Linked DNA regions of Homo sapiens. The protein of the gene in region 5 interacts with the protein of the main gene of each other region in a pairwise test. Each region holds a gene or a part of one and is shown on either strand. Other genes may lie near its edges. The genes, in order: UBE2E2, UBE2U, UBE2D4, UBE2L6 and RNF25.

Evidence for each region.
Region 1: the proteins of RNF25 (region 5) and UBE2E2 interact in binary tests that used the Homo sapiens proteins (3 or more experiments, as listed by UniProt).
Region 2: the proteins of RNF25 (region 5) and UBE2U interact in a two-hybrid assay, tested with the Homo sapiens proteins (one large-scale study listed by BioGRID and IntAct).
Region 3: the proteins of RNF25 (region 5) and UBE2D4 interact in binary tests that used the Homo sapiens proteins (3 or more experiments, as listed by UniProt).
Region 4: the proteins of RNF25 (region 5) and UBE2L6 interact in a two-hybrid assay, tested with the Homo sapiens proteins (one large-scale study listed by BioGRID and IntAct).

What each region holds. Positions count from the first base shown.
Region 1 is NC_000003.12:23,531,819-23,535,339, reverse strand, and holds part of UBE2E2 (ubiquitin-conjugating enzyme E2 E2), read right to left. Parts: intron 2,787-3,521; coding exon 2,639-2,786; intron 1,188-2,638; coding exon of another isoform or gene 1,126-1,187; exon of another isoform or gene 1-1,125.
Region 2 is NC_000001.11:64,206,619-64,210,139, reverse strand, and holds part of UBE2U (ubiquitin-conjugating enzyme E2 U), read right to left. Parts: intron 3,377-3,521; coding exon 3,284-3,376; intron 1-3,283. UniProt on the Homo sapiens protein: Catalyzes the covalent attachment of ubiquitin to other proteins.
Region 3 is NC_000007.14:43,932,930-43,936,450, forward strand, and holds part of UBE2D4 (ubiquitin-conjugating enzyme E2 D4), read left to right. Parts: intron 1-3,521. UniProt on the Homo sapiens protein: Accepts ubiquitin from the E1 complex and catalyzes its covalent attachment to other proteins. In vitro able to promote polyubiquitination using all 7 ubiquitin Lys residues, but may prefer 'Lys-11' and 'Lys-48'-linked polyubiquitination.
Region 4 is NC_000011.10:57,561,170-57,564,690, forward strand, and holds part of UBE2L6 (ubiquitin/ISG15-conjugating enzyme E2 L6), read right to left. Parts: intron 1-3,521. UniProt on the Homo sapiens protein: Catalyzes the covalent attachment of ubiquitin or ISG15 to other proteins. Functions in the E6/E6-AP-induced ubiquitination of p53/TP53. Promotes ubiquitination and subsequent proteasomal degradation of FLT3.
Region 5 is NC_000002.12:218,666,194-218,669,019, forward strand, and holds part of RNF25 (E3 ubiquitin-protein ligase RNF25), read right to left. Parts: intron 2,487-2,826; coding exon 2,412-2,486; intron 2,149-2,411; coding exon 2,046-2,148; intron 1,954-2,045; coding exon 1,886-1,953; intron 1,789-1,885; coding exon 1,719-1,788; intron 38-1,718; coding exon 1-37. UniProt on the Homo sapiens protein: E3 ubiquitin-protein ligase that plays a key role in the RNF14-RNF25 translation quality control pathway, a pathway that takes place when a ribosome has stalled during translation, and which promotes ubiquitination and degradation of translation factors on stalled ribosomes.

The DNA.
Region 1 (3,521 bases), on a different chromosome or scaffold from region 5:
TATCGGTCACCTATTGTGGGCCCATTTGGTGTCCCAAATACTCTGGGTAACAATATCAACAACACATTACCATTTATAAATGGCTTTCACATATACCATCTCATTTTAACCTCAGAGGAATCCAGTGATTTAGGCAGGGCTGGTACTAATCCCAATTTTATATCAAAAACTAAGCCTGTGGAAAGTTAAGTGACCCATCCAATGTGATATGACTAATAAACAATTAAACTGGTTTTCAAATCTACATCTGCTGTCTACAAATATCATGCTGATAAGGATGGGTAGTCATACCCTAAAGAACATCTGTGTTGGAATGGACCAAAAATTCTTTAAAGAGACAAGTGCAAATTACAAAAAGAGTATGAAAAAGATTTAGAAAATAAGTTTATGTATGGATAAGAGTGAGAAAGTATTTTTTAAGTGAGTTAAATTTGTATCATTATACAAGGCCTATTTTTGAGGTGACAGCATTTCCGGGTTAAAATAGCTCTACAGATTCAGTGTAGGAAAATCTTATTTATTCCTATTCTATCAAACTTGTTTTTGTGATAATTTGAAGATAGATTTAAGATAAACTTCAATCTAACCTAATCTTTCCTACCTCTGTAGGTAAAAAAACCTACAGAGATTGAAAGTGTACCAGATAACAGTGTGAAATAAGTCCATTAAGCAAAAGAATGGACATTTGACTACTTTAAAATAAACAACTCTATTTAAGATTCTAGAAGTGTCAACATTCATAAAAACCAATTAGGAAACTTTATTTTTATGTGTTAAAAAGTGTGATAAACTAAATGTTAGCATGTATTTTACAAATTCTCTTCTAGTCTCATATGAGGCAGGCTGTCTTTGGTTTTATGGAACATTATTTTTAGGCTTGTTCTTACTATCAATAGCATTATTTCAAAATCTATTTCTTTTACTTATGTGGTTCTGCTTTAGTTAGGAGTGATTTTTAAGTTTTTGCAGAATGCATTTGTAATTTTCTGAAACGGAGCAAAAAAAAAAAACTAGTTCACTGAACAGAAGTCTTTTTGATTGCTGAGAGAAGGCTTTGGTGGAATGAATCTATTCCTTTAAGCAGGAATATCTGTAGAGAGAACAGGCTGTCATATACAGGCTTATTCAGGGTAACAGATTCCATTTCAGCTGACTTGGAGGCAAAGCAGGCCAGGCTTCGAAATCACCTCAAAAAAAAAAAAAAAAAAAAAGCCTTCTTGCAACATTACCTCCAAATGAGGTTATACAAGGTTATACACAGTCACAGACAAATGGGATTAAAATGGGAACAACAGGACTGAAAGAACAAAATTAACTTTAAATTAGTATAACATTATTGGACTTTACTGTCTGTAGTAAAGTATGAATTAATTCAAAAAATATTTTATAATGATCCTGCACAATTTTATTTTTTGGGCAGGCTGGGTACAGTGGCTCATGCCTGTAATCCCAGCACTTTGGGGGGCCAAAGCGGGCGGATCACAAGGTCAGGAGTTCGAGACCTGGCTGGCCAACACGGTGAAACCCCGTCTCTACTAAAAGTACAAAAATAAGCTGGGCTTGGCGGCACACGGCTGTAATCCCAGCTACTTGGGGGGCTAAGATAGGAGAATCGCTTGAATCCAGGAGGCGGAGGTTGCGGGAGCCAAGATCGTGCCACTGCACTCCAGCCTGGGTGACACAGTGAGACTCAGTTTCAAAAAAAAAAAAAAAAAAAAAATACTAATTTGCTACTTTAAAAAAGATTTTACTGCTGAAAAATAAAGAAATATAAAAGTAGAAAGACTGTTATTTCTTGATGTTTTATAAAACAGCCAGGATCCTAAGCAACCCCACTGATACTCGTCATTTCCATTTGTGTAAAATTTCATGTATCCAGTGAACAGAGTTTACTCATGATTGTAGAAGAGGGAATCTCATGCAATATTTAAGCTATTAATTACTCATAAAATAATTCTCCCACTGAGAACATCAATGAAAACCCTATAGCTATCTTTGGATTTTTGTATTTTCTAAAATAAACCCAATTTGTAAAGACATGGCCCAGGAATTAAGAATTTTCAGTGGTAAGCACACCAGCAAGCCATAAAGGCCTGGCTATAGACTTTTTCGTTTTCTTGGGAGGTGTATTTCCTTGTTTACTTTTGGGGTATTTCCTAGAACAGACCATTCAGGACCGTTATAATAGCTTGTCAGGATGCACAGTTACTAGGATGCCAAAAAGGTCACGTCTGCATGGTGCTGCCTGGTTGTTATCAGATTTTAATAGCCCACATTCCTCAAATTAACATCTTCTAGTAGGCATCTAATTAAAGATTAAGCTATTCAACTTGAATTTTTATTATTATTTGGCAGGATAACTTAATTCATTCTTTAAACGTACTTTCCCATCTAAAATGATTTTTCATTATTTTTTTTACCACACTATACTTTTTCCTTTTTGGCAAATGATAGGTCTTAAAAACACTAATGAGAAGACCCAATTTAAAAAGAAAATAGTTACATACTATGAAAATTTAACAATAATAGTAGTAGAAGCAGTGGTGGTAGTGGTAGTAGCAGTAGTAAACAAGTTACTAAGGGTCTGACATTTAAATCTTGACAAGCTCCAATTCATACTAGATTTAAAGTCTCTTACCAGGGTTGCAATCTGTAAGAAGTGAGCAGATGGAGAGGAGAACTTTAGAAATAGTTAAAGCCGGACTCCAGTTGTCCTTTAAGATGTCCAGACAGATCACACCTTGGCTGTTAATATTACAGTGATAGATTCTTGTTCGGAAGGTAACCTACAAGAAAATGTAAAGTTATATTTTGTTAGACAAAGTGTTTATTAACAGTATCTATAGACAATTTTTGTCTAATAAAATTGCCTATTTTATCAGACAAAATAGCCCAGGCTATTGGTTAACATACACTTGATTTTTTTCTTGGGCACATGAGATTAATCAACAGAGATCATCATTTTAGAATTTGTCATTTTGGGCACAGAGAAATAAACATCAACAGCAAAACCATGACATTCTGCTTCTTATAAAGAGTCCTGTTATTTAACAAATGTTTTAGGGACTGAATTTACTTTTGATACAACTACAGGAATGTTCATGGGGAGAAACTGACTCTGACTTCTAAAAAATTTCAAAGAAAACTTTTGTTAGATTCCAGTTATTTTAAGGATTTTGTACATTTATAATATTCAAACACCAAAAAGCATGAGAGTACTAATACAAAGAAAATAAATATTATTCTATAACAGTTTTTTTTTCTTTTTTTTTTTTTTTGAGATAGAGTTTCGCTCTGTTGCCCAGGCTGGAGTGCAGTGGCGTGATCTTTGCTCACTGCAACCTCCACCTCCCGGGTTCAAGCGATTGTCCTGCCTCAGCCTCCCAAGTAGCTGGGATTAGAGGTGCCCGCCACCACACCCAGCTAATTTTTGTATTTTTAGTAGAGACAGGGTTTTGCCATGTTGGCCAGGCTGGTCTTGAACTCCTGACCTCAAGTCATCCGCCTGCCTTGGCCTCCCA
Region 2 (3,521 bases), on a different chromosome or scaffold from region 5:
AAGATGAAAGACAACTGCAAAAGCCTCAAAGGACAAGATTAATAGATCTTAAATATAAATTTATTTTAAATCATAAAAATCTCTAAATCCCAGATGTGAAAAAACAGCATAAACAAAGTTGAAAATTAATGACAAATTAGAGGAAATATTTGCAACATCTAGGACAATGTGATAGCACTGTCAATTGTATCATACGAGTCACAAAATAAGAATCAACAAAGGTGGGAAATGTTTACTTCTCAAGTATTCAAAGAAGTGCTTATTAAAATAATAGCAAGACTCTTACCAAATTGGCAAAAAAATTTTCTTCAAAGTTTCAATGGCCAGAATTGGAAGGTGCTAAAATAAGAACTTTATATGTACTTTTTGGTAGGAGTACAAATACCACCGAAAGGCAATTTGGCTTTTTATATAAAGACTTAAAACTGTACATAGCCATCTTTTGCGGGGCGGGCGGGGGCGGGGGTTGAAAGCTAGTAAATAACCCTTCTCTCCCCTCAAGTTCATATGTAATTATAAAATAGATCAAAGTATTGAAAGGTGGAAGTAAAAACATCAGCTTCATTGCACATAAGACTGAAATGGAGAACGCACTTGATGAATGGCTTTAATCAGGCTCCACAAAAGTCCCCCTGATTTAAACTTAACTCCCAAACCGAAGGCCTGCCTAAGTTTCCTGCCTGGAGCAAAAGAGACTATACCCAGTATGGTCAGAAGGAGAGAGTGTTGAGCAAGTTCTGGGCCACATATGCTCAATTCTTTCCTTCATCTCCCTAATCAGATAAGTGACTTCTAGGAGGAGTGATGGGGGAAAAAAAAAGAGCAGTCACAAGTTTTCCTATACCTTCCCCCTCCTAGAGACTAAAGTTCCCTCTACTTTATGGAAGTGGGAGGGATGAGGACTAGGGGATAAGAGTACCTCCCCCCATTGAATTTAATCCAATAATTCTAACTATTTTAAACAAATAAAGGCACACGTATGTAATTAATTTTGTGTTATAGATACCAAAAATAGGTTTTAATTACAATAAAATAATGTACTTGGGAAAAAAACATAAAAAATCTAATGTAAAATATGAATGTTCCCCTGCCTACTAATTCTACTATTCAAGACCAATATTACCAGTTGGTCTATACAAATATACACACAAACACATATATGTATACACACCCATATGTGTGTGTTTATTAAATGGGAATATATTTTACATTTTATTGTTCAATGTATTTTTTCACTTAACAATGTATTTTCAACATATTTCTGGACACAAATATTTATTCAAAAAATATCTGAATACCTACTATATGCCACGCAGTGAAGATTCTAAGGATATAGCAATGATCTAGACCTAAAAGGTTCGTAGACCTTCCTCGTTCTGTTTAGAAGCAATACACGTAACTGTAGGATATTTCACTTAAAATTCCTGTGTTAATGGAGATTGAAGTTATTTCCATTTTTCCTATTTCTAACATTGCTGTTGGGAATAAACATCTTTTTTTTTTTTTTTTTTTTTTTTTTTTTTTTTTTTTTTTTTTGAGACAGCGTCTTGTTCTGTTGCCCAGGCTGGAGTGCAATGGCACAATCATGGCTCACTGCAGCCTCGACCTCCTGGGCTCAAGCAATCCTCCTACCTCAGACCTGAAGTAGCTGGGACTACAGGCACATGCTACCATGCCAAGCTAATTTTTTTATTTTCTGTAGAGACAGGTCTCACTATGTTGCCCAGGCTGGTGTCAAACTCCTGGACCCAAGCAATACTCCCCACTGACCACCCAAAGTACTGGGATAACAGGCATAAGCCACTGAGCCTGGTGGGAATAAACGTCTTTAAATATAACACACTCTTGCACACTTGTGCTAATATTTCTACAGAATAGTTTATAAACATGGTATTACGGGAATTTAGGGATATATGCATTTTATACCTGATTAGAAACTGTCACACTACTTCCTCAAAAGGTCATGATTATATCAGAGGAACAATGTCTGCCCATGCCTACTAAATATGTATGTTATATTTTGACATTTTATGAATATGTGATAAATAACAATACTTTTTGTTTTAATTTGCTTTTATTTTCTTAGTAGTGAGATTGATAATCTTTTTATGTTTATTTTTGTTGTTTATTCTGTCCAGTGTTTGTTTATAGCCTTTCTCCATTTTTTAATTGCTTTATGTTCTTTTTATATTGATTGACAAGTGTTCTTCATATGGTATACATATTCTGTTACATGCATTGCAAATATTTTCCCTCAGTTTGCAAAAGTCAGTGTCTTTGACCTCTGAGTATAATGTCCTGGGCCGTAGAGAAGTTTTAACAGGTTTTGCAGTTTAATGTGTCATATTTTCCATACAGTTACTGGGTTTTATCATGCTGAGAAACGTCTTCCTCACCAAGCCCATAAAAATTCTATTAGATTTCCTTCTTTTCCAGCATTTAAAATTTTTAGATTTTTGATCCTTCAGGAATTGGTTTTGTGTATAACTTTAAGTAGCAATCTAACTTACCTTTTATTTAAAAAAAGTTAATCTGTCCAGTGCATCGTTTTTTTATAATAATGAAAAATTAGATCCAACTAAAATATTGAACAATACAGAAATGGTTAAGTGTATTGTTGAACCATTTAAGATGATCTTTTGAAGACTGTTTAATAATGCAGAAAAAAGACATATAGTTTTAAAATTAAAAACCTAGGCCAGGCGCAGTGGTTCACAGCTGTAATCCCAGCATTTTGGGAGGCCAAAGTGGGCGGATGGTCAGGAGTTCAAGACCAGCTTGGCCAACATGGTGAAACCCCATCTCTGCTAAAAATACAAAAACTAGCCAGGTGTGGTGGCGCATGCCTGTAGTCCCAGCTACTGGGGAGGCTGAGGCAGGAGAATCGATTGAACCTGGGAGGTGAAGGTTGCAGTGAGCCGAGATCACACCACTGCATTCCAGCCTGGGCGACAGAGAGAGACTCTGTCTCAAAAAAAACACCATAAAATAAATAAAATCAAAAACCTAGAGGCAAAACTTCATGCATAATACCTCAACTGTATAGAAAAAATTCATACTTAGAAAAAAGGAAAATAAATTTGGCAAAATGTTGACAGTATTTTCTCTTTGCATTAGGATTTAAGGTGATTGCTAATTTTTTCCAGCCTTTTCATATTTTCCCCAATGAGAGTTCTTACTTTTAGAATCATAATAAAGTTCTTAAAAAGAAACATGATTATTATAAGAAACAAGGATAATAGGGACAAAGCCTCTAATGATAAAAATGTCATTTAGTTCTTACCATTTGGATGAAACGGAATTGTTATAAATTTCACAACTGGAGGAGCATAGTTGTACTCCGATGTAAAATGTATTGTCAGTTGGAAGACTAAACCTATAATATAGAAATAAACATTTTTACTAAAGTGTCATGTTTATTGATTAACTGTAACCTGATTAACACTGGAGTTTCTCCCTATGGTTTAGTCTTTCCACAGTTTTATTTTTAAGTAAATTGATTCATAGAGTGCACCGACTCC
Region 3 (3,521 bases), on a different chromosome or scaffold from region 5:
TCTTGCTGGAATGTGTGCCATCCAGTTCCCCTCCTGGGGGCAACAAATGTTAAAGTATATATATATATATATATATATATATATACACACACATATATATACACATATGTATGTGTGTATATATATAACATATATACACACATATATATACACATATGTATGTGTGTATATATATAACATATATACTTATATGTGTGTATATACATATACGTACATATATATGTGTGGGTGTATATATATATATATTCTACCTATTCATGTAATTGTAGTTAACATTTTTGTGGATTTCTTTTCAGTGCCTTTGATGTGTATGTGTTTCAGATTGTTGTCATGTAGTGCATCAAATTTTATACTCTGCTTTTTTCTTGCCCTTTTCCTCTAATGTTGTATCATGACATTTTCTCCTGTTATTCTGTAGTCTTTAAAAACTAATTTTCAGTGGCTGCATAATACTTGGTTTAGTTTCTCAAAAAAAAGTTTAGTTAACTTCTGATTATAAAGGTAGTAATTGTTCTTTAAAGAAACTTGGGGCTGGGCGTGGTGGCTCAGGCCTGTAATCCCAGCACTTTGGGAGGCTGAGGCAGGAGGATCGCTTGAGGTCAGGAGTTTGAGACCAGCCTGGCCAACATGGTGAAACTCATCTCTACTACAAATACAAAAATTAGCTGGGCATGGTGGTGCGTTCCTGTAATCAGTCCCAGCTACTCTGGAGGGTGAGACACCAGAATTGCTTGAACCCAGTAGGCAGAGGTTGCAGTGAGCCGAGATGGTGCCAGTGTACTCCAGTCTGGGCAACACAGTGAGACCCTGTCTCTAAAAATAAAAATAAAAAATAAAGAGAACTTGGAAATAAGATAATACCATATTCATCTACTTCAAGATGAATATTTTTTCAAATGTTCACGTCTCTGAAATTGGGATGCTTCTTACAATAGCTGTCAGCCAGGTTACCTTCACTTAGATGTCACTATCTGTATGAGTAAACCATCATGGCAGTTCATTATGAGGTAAGTGCATTGCTGGTACTATATTTGTTGAGTTTAATTGTTTTAAAAATATTTTCAAAAAGATAGTGTGATTTAGCACTGAAAAGAAAAGCTTTTGTGAACACAGGCACAGAAACAGGACAACGACGAGTAAATTTCATAATAAGGGAGCAAATATTTGTTGTTGGAGGAAGGACTGGAATTTCCTAATTCCATGTCAAGCAACCAAATTCTTCATAGCCACAGAAAGGAAGGTACCACCTACCCTCAAGTTGGTGAGACTGGGTCATTTTTTTTTTTCTGGAATACGTGCAAATAGATTGTGTATCATGGGCCTTTGCAGAATAAGTATTCATGGCTTGAAAGAAAACTCCAGGAAGAGTAGTAGAGGACTCTAAGAATTGCCACATTACCATTGTTTTGGAAGACACAGAGGATGATATTGTGTAGACATCAATGACTCAGTGTTGGGCTCTGAATGGGAAGAAACTTTAGGAATACCTGAACAAACCAGTTTATTTATTTCACTTGTTTTTCCTTTTTTTTTTTTTTGTATTCATGAATGATACTTAACAAGAAACACACAAAGCTATGTTTAAGCCTAAAATAATTCTTTTGATAAAAGTAATTTTAATTTTTTAATTTTTTGAAACAGAATCTCACTCTGTCACACAGGCGCAGTCTTGGCTCACTGCAACCTCCACCTCCCGGGCTAAAGCAATTCTTTTTTTTTTTTCCCACAAGAAGAAAAAGTACATTTTATTTAATGACCAAGTACACACACACATTCACACACATGCATATGTACATATAACTAAAAAAAATATTTTTTCTCATCACATGGGATGCATTGTGAAATATTCTACATTCTTTCATTTAAAGAAAAATGCTGGTCACGTTTTAGTAAAAATCTTTCACAAATCACTAATATGTTACAATGCATAACTGCTCTAGAGCATTAACAATGCTAAGCTATAATTTTAGGGAAATATATAGTGGTGCTCCTTCTTAGAATTAGCCCATGTGGTATTTTAGGTACTCAACTCAGGGAAAAAAAAAATGTAACATAGCCTTGTTACCATGTATTCAGCCTGGACATGGTACATGCTTTCAGTGAGCTTAAATCACCTATCTTCCTAGGCCCAAGATCTGAGGGAATGACTTCCAACTACGTAACAGGACCCTTTGTCTGTATTATACATTTTATATGTCTTTTTATGTACATTGTTTCACTTGTTCCTCACAACAACCCTGTGAGGTAGGGAGGGGAAAATATCAGTTACGCTTTATAGATAATGAAGTTAAGGTTCAGAGAGGTTAAGTGACTTTCTCAGTTACCTAGTAAAAGGCAGAGACAGAATAAGAACTATTAACTTTTAGGTTGGGGGCCCTTTTCTCTAAACCACATAGCTTTGGAGAGTATATTCTAACCCAAAATATTTTTACTGCTTCATCCTCATTTTCTTATTATTAATTCAACTTTTTACAGAATACCATAAAAGACCTAATTCTAAATTCATCATGCTAAATTTATGCTTCTCTGTAAACTTATGGCCACAGAATACATATTTTTTTTTTTGGAAAGCACTGTCACTTTGGCCCTAAAGGAACATAAGCAATATAAAGGGCCCCAGAGGCCAAGGAAATTGAAGAGAAGTCAGAAGAAGGGATATAAAATGGAATGTGTTAACGGATTTTAGTCCCTTTAAGTTTGCACTTTTGTGAGAGGGTTCAATGGAGAGCTTTAATGCAGATGAGACTTGAAGCTTTTGAAGAAGATCTAAGTCTTGATGAGGTTATTCAAACTCAGATCTTGAACGCATAATGATGATAGGCCATGGTCTTCAAAAACGTGGTACTTGATGCTCTCCCACAGTGCCAGGACTGGAATGTCACAATACATATAGATTCATGTTTTTGTCCATTAATGGTCTGTGGGTTTCTTTAAATGAAGCCCATTTTAGAGTCCATAGATATCAGTGTTCTGCGAAACTGTTGGGGATTGGAGGCTCCCAAAAGACCCCAGATGCTCTGCCCTGCCCATGGCATCACCCTCTAAAGCGATTCTTGTGCCTCAGCCTCCTGAGTAGCTGGTTATAGGCACATGCCACCAAGCCCAGCTAAGTTTTGTATTTGTAGTAGAGACAGGGTTTCACCATGTTGGCCAAACTGGTCTCGAACTCCTGACATCAGGCGATCTGCCTACCTCGGCCTCCCAAAGTGCTGGGATTACCGGCATGAACCACTGTACACAGCCTGATAAAAGTAATTTTTAAATACAATTAAAGTTTATGTGCAAAGAAAGCATTTGTGTTAGTTTATTTGCCAGCATGTTTTTTTTTTCCTAATTGTATGTAAAGTAAAATTGTGTCTTATAAAGGATGGAGTCTTGGAGTTGACGAAACACCGTAAAGGAATAACTGAGTGTGTACCATGGTTTGCTTAACTCTTCTCTACTACTATTCAATACTTTAACTTACTTTCTCTTTTTCGGAACTTCTCACTTTTATCATTGTTACTTGTAATAGTAATTAC
Region 4 (3,521 bases), on a different chromosome or scaffold from region 5:
TCTGCAGCAAAGACATGACCCCACCGCTTCAAACTCTGCCAGATCAGGGCTGGAGAAGGGAAATGACTCCGGAAGACCATAGCAGAGAAGAACTCTACACACCAAGTGGGGAAACAAGGGGGCAAGGAGTGACTCATCTTCCCAAAACTGTGGCCCAAACACCTGAATATCCCTTCTGAATTCTCCCAACAGCCATTACTGAGCATCTTCTACTGACATTTAACTGAGACAGGACCCAGTCCTCAAGAATTTCAATAGAGTAATGGACGAAACATGGATGTGATTATGTGAATGTGTATGGATATACGGTAAGGAAGGAGATGAGAGGGGAGAAGGAAGGTTTCACAGAGGGTGCACTCTGTGAGCTGGGCCATGCAGAATGAACAGGAATCCATAAAGCAGAGAAGGGGAGAAGCACCAGGGCAGAGGGCCCAGATGGGAAACATAAGTACAGTATGTCCTGCAGAAGGTTAATAGGTAGTACAGGAAAAGGGTTCCAAGGTCAAGTACATTTGGTAAATCTCGGCTAAAGAGGTTTCTTCACTGGAGAACTTCCCACAGCCTTTAATATGCTATTGTGTATGGTGATTGACCAAGCTGTGGGCCCACAGCATGCAGTACTTCTCAAATGTATTTGACAAAGGAATGCTGCCCCTCTTTTAGAGTCCATCTTGTGGGACTACAGGCCTTTTCTTGTTGGGGAAGATAAAGACACTCAAGGGCAGGTCACATTTCTCTGGAACAATGAATTGGTACAAACCAGTGGTTCTCAACCAGGGGCGATTTTACCCAGCCAGGGACATTCGGTAATATCTGGGAACATTGTTCCGTTGTCATAAATCGGGAGAGTGGATAGAGGCCAGAGATGCTGATAAACATCCTAACAAAGAATTATCTGGCCGAACAAGAGGGGAGACCGCTGCCCTGCAGGGTGAGTCTCAGGCCTGGTCACATTCACCACAAGCTGACTGAAGGGCCTTTGGGCCTTAGGCGAACATCAGCAGTAGTACCCTGGCAGTACTCCTCATAGACCCGTGGTGGTGGTGGACAAGGGGAGAGACTCCTATATCTGGGGAAAAGGGAGGGAAGAGTGGGAAGGACTGTGTCCTGTGGTTTCAGTGCCAGCTTAGCTGCAGTAGCACAGAGCACTAGAGAGATTTCTAAGGTTTCCGACTCCAGGCCCTGGCCCATGGACAGCAACTGTGGACCTCTCTGGGGCCCAGCAGTGAACTAACCACCCTAAGGGGAAGAACACAAGCCTGGCTGGCTTCACCACCTGCTGATTGCAGAGCCCTAGGGCCTTGAGCGAACGTAGGGCATAGCCAGGTAGTGATTACAGCGGGCCTTGAGCAAAACCCAGTCTTGTGCTGGCTTCAGGCCTGACCCAGTGCAGTCCCAATTCTGGTGACCATGGGGATGCTTGTGTCACACCTCACCCAGCTCCAGGGAGCTCAGCACGGAGAGTAAGACTCCATTTGTTTGGGAGAAAGTAAGGGAAGAAAATGAGAGTCTCTACCTGGTAATCCAGAGAATTCTTCCTGATGTTATCCAAAACCACAAAGGTAGTAACCTCTAAAAGTCTGCAAGAACTACAGTGTTACTAGGCTTGGAGTGCCCCCTTATGTAGACATGGCTGCAGTGACCAAAACTTAGATCACAACAGCCAAGCCCCTTCCAATACCTCGAAAGCCTTCCCAAGAAGGATGAGTACAAACAAGCCCAGACTACAAAGACTATAATAAATACCTAACTCCTTAGTGCCCAGACACCAACAAACATCCACAAGCTTCAAGACGATCCAGGAAAACACAGCCTCACCAAACGAACTAAATAAGGCACACAGGGCCAATTCCAGAGAAACAGAGATATGTGACCTTTCAGACAGAGAAATCAAAATAGCTGTTTTGAGGAAACTCAAAGAAATTCAATATTTCCTCCACAGAGAAGGAATTCAGAATCCCATCAACAAATTTAACAAATAAATTGAAATAATTAAAAAGAATCAAGGAGAAATTCCGGAGTCGAAAAATGCAATTGAGGCCGGGTGCAGTGGCTCATGCCTGTAATCCCAGCACTTTGGGAGGCCGAGGCAGTCAGATCACCTGAGGTTAGGAGTGCAAGACCAGCCTGGCCAACGTGGTGAGGCCCTGTTTCTACTAAAAATACAAAAATTAGCTGGGCATGGTGGTGCAGGCCTGTAATCCCAGCTACTTGGGAGGCTCAGGCAGGAGAATTGGAGAGGCAGAGGTTGCAGTGAGCCGAGAGCATGCCATTGCACTCCAGCCTGGGCAACAAGAGTGGAACTCTGTCTCAAAAAAAAAAAAAAAAGAAAGAAAGAAAAAAATGCAATTAACATACTGAAACGCATCAGTCTTTTAACAGCAGAATTGATCAAGCAGAAGAACTAGAGTGTTTAAAGACAGGGTATTTGAAAATACAGTCAGATGAAGCAAAATAATAAAAGAATAAACAAAGACTTTGGGAGGCCGAGGCAGGTGGATCACGAGATCAGGAGATCGAGACCATCCTGGCTAACACGGTGAAACCTCATCTCTACTAAAAATACAAAAAAAAAAAAAAAAATTAGCCGGGCGTGGTGGTGGGCGCCTGTAGTCCCAGCTACTCAGGAGGTTGAGGCAGGAGAATGGTATGAACCCAGGAGGCAGAGCTTGCAGTGAGCCAAGATTGTGCCACTGCACTCCATCCTGGGCAACAGAGCGAGACTCCGTCTCAAAAATAAAAAAAAAGAATAAACAAAGAATGAAGTATGCCTACAGGATCTAGACAATGGCCTCAAAAGGGCAAATCTAAGAGTTACTGGCCTTAAATAGGAGGTAGGGAGAGAGACAGGGCTAGAAAGTTTATTCAAACGGATAGTAGCAGAGAATTTCCCAAATCTAGAGAAAGATATCAATATCCAAACATGAGAAGGTTATAGAACACCAAGCAGACTTAACCCAAAGAAGACTACCTCAAGGCATTTAATAATCAATCTCCCAGATGTCAGGGATTAAAGAAAGGGTCCTAACAGCAGCAAGAGAAAATAAACACATAACATACAATGGAGCTCCAATATGTCCAGCAGCGACTTTTCAGTGGAAATCTTACAGGCCAAGAGAGAGTGGCATGACATATTTAAATGAAATACGGCTGAGGGAAAAAATCTTTTACCCTAGAATAGTATATCCAGTGAAAATATCCTTCAAACATGAAGGAGAAATAAAGACTTTCCCAGACAAACAAAAGCTGAGAGATACCATCGACACCAGACCTGTCCTACAAGAAATGCTAAAAAGGAGTTCTTCAATCAGAAATTTAAAAAAATTTTAATGAGCAATAAAAAATCATCTGGGCTGGGCATGGTGGCTCACGCCTGTAATCCCAGCACTGTGGGAGGCCAAAGCCGGTGGATCACCTGAGGTCAGGAGTTCGAGACCAGCCTGGCTAACATGGTGAAACCACATCTCTACTAAAAATACAAAAATTAGCTGGGCGTGGTGGCGGGTGCCTGTAACCCCAGC
Region 5 (2,826 bases):
GAGGGATGTTGTTATCTGTGAGAATTTCCTTCCCTTTCTGAGGAGAGAAGACACTGATTAAACGGGGGTAGGGGGAAGAACGGTGAGCAAGGCCTGTCTACTACTCCTAGGAGTGACTGGCTAGACTTGGCTCCTAGCAGGCCAGTTTGTTACCTTGTGTTTATGCATTTCTGGCTTGGTGACGCTCCCTCTGCTGGGAATCAATCCTTCTCCACATCTCTGCCCCTCCCCCAAAATTTGATCTTCCTGGTTTCAAAATTCAACCTAATTGTTTTTCCTTTCATTAAGTCACTTTTAATATATCTTGGAGATGAAAATAATACACCTTGAGAAAAAAAATGTTCAATTAAAATTTATCTTCTGGGAGGCCTTTCTTGATTAGCCCCCTTCAATATCACTCCCCCATGGGGCAATGTGTTTGTTCTAAGTCAGCTTTCAGAAAGCATGACAAGGCATGGACAACCCAAATGGACAGAGAATTCACAAGGCATTGAGTTGGGCTGTGAACTATGCATTTGAATTGTTATTTGAATAGCTAATAGTGTACTCTGGAATTCCACAAAGTCCAAGGCTGCATTGTGGAGGCCTGACCTAGGACTGCTACGGTGGCCTATCAAACCCACTCTCTTTGACTCTCAGCCACCCACCTTCATTCTATTCTGAACATTTTTCTTAAAAATTTAAACTAAGAGAGGCTGGGCGTGGTGGCTCATGCCTATAATCCCAGCACTTTGGGAGGCTGAGGCAGGTGGATAACCTGAGGTCAGGAGTTCAAGACCAGCCTGGCCAACATGGAGAAACCCCATCTCTACTAAAAATATAAAATTAGCTGGGTGTGGTGGCACATGCCTGTGATCCTAGCTATCTGGGAGGCTGAGGCAGGAGAATCACTTGAACCTGGGAGGCGGAGGTTGCAGTGAGCTGAGATCACACCACTGCACTCCAGCCTGGGTGACAGACTAAGACTGTCTCAAAAAAAAAAAAAAAATTAAAATTAATAAATAAACAAACTAGGGGAAAATAAAACTGTACTTAATTTTATATTTTTAATCTCAAACAATAAAAGTTTTCTGTGTATATTGGAGCTTCAGGTGTTGCTTCATGTGGGTTGTTTCATCAAGCAGTGTATAAGCTCTTTCAGTAAAGGAACCATGACTTTTTCTTTTTTTTTTTTTTGAGATGGAGTCTCACTCTGTTGCCCAGGCTGGAGTGCAGTGCATGATCTTGGCTCCCTGCAATCTCCGCCTCCCGGGTTCAAGCGATTCTCCTTCCTCAGCCTCCCAAGTAACTGGGATTACAAATGCCCGCCACCGTGCCTGGCCAACCATGACTTTTTCTAGTCAGGTCCAATGGCAGTCTAGCCTTCAAATGTTCATTTATGGCTAAGACGCCCCCAAGCAAGATGCGTATCTTTTGCCACTTTCAGTTGCCAGTGCCAAGAGAACAAGACATATACTGAAACTGATGCAAGAAAAATTCAAGGTGAAGAGGAAAAGTCATTTTCTGTCAAGATGCTGGCATAGGCAACTTGGAGAAGCTACTGAACTGTCTTTTGGGAAGTTTTTCAAATAGAAGAGTCTCATTTCTCTGGATTAATTTAGGCCTTACCTAATGACTCCAGATCCGTTTAAGATTCTAGGCCCATGGTTTCCCTTTTACAGCTAGAAACTGCTCTAGCTTGAAGGAAAGAACATATCTCAGACTAGCGCACCTCTTACCTCAATGAGTTCATACAGCATGGCAGTGCCCAGCCCAGCCTTGGCCACGTGGCCCAGCACCTGTAAGATCCTGGAGGAAGAGGGCAAACCAAATATTAGACCTGCCCATTTCTGTCACCGGGCAAAGCTGTAGCTGAGTTTTCCCTGTTCTGACAGGTTCAACTTACGTGTGGATCTGTTCATCTGAAAGTCCTCGGGGATTTCGGATAGAGATCTGTGGCACCTCATGGGGATACTAGTGGGGGCAAATAACAAGTTACTGCTGAAGCGGTCCACCCCAGGGACTCTCCCCTTCCTCCCTTTGCTGCCACACAGTAGGGGCTTCACCTCTGCTGGGACCTGAAGCACCAGAGTGAAGCAGACATACTGTGAATCCTGGTCCTCTGCAGTGGCAGGATGCAAAGTGATGTAGATCTCCCATGGTGAAGTTCTGCAGGTGGATCAAGTGGACACGCAGATGTGACTGGGTAGGGGCTTGGGGGCTGGGGAGGATGGGGCTGAGACAGTGAAGTGGGCAAAGGAAGTACACATTGGACTCTTTCTTTTGGGGTAGGATTAAAGGAATAGCTTTTGTCTACACAAGAGAAATATTATCTCTGAATCAAGGCTCACAATGTCTTAAGACCCAAATTCAGCATAGAACCTCTCCTCATTACTAGGGGGACTCCTGCCCACCACTGGTTGAATACATACCTGCCATTTCCTTTAATCACCTGTAGTTCATCTAGATAGATGGACTCCAATACTTCAACTTCAGAGGGAAGGACCCTAGAGAGACAGGAGTAGACTAACTTACCATTACAGCTCTCCCTGTGGAAGCCTGCTAAGGCCAATAAAGGCAGGCTTTGTAGAAAAATGGCAATCTACCAGAATGCATTCTCCTGCTAAACTCCTTAAAAACAAGGAATATGTTACCTTAAGTTGTCAACTGGCCAAATAGAAGGCATGGAAATCAGAATTTTAGGCATCATTTCTGCCAACAGATGAAGAAGTGGATTCTAGAGAAGTAAAATGACTAACCAAGGCTTAACATAGGTAGAACTAGGCCCAGAGCCAGGTTTCCTGACTCCCTGTTTAAGTTTCATTCCCCTTAGTGGCTGAATCTCTG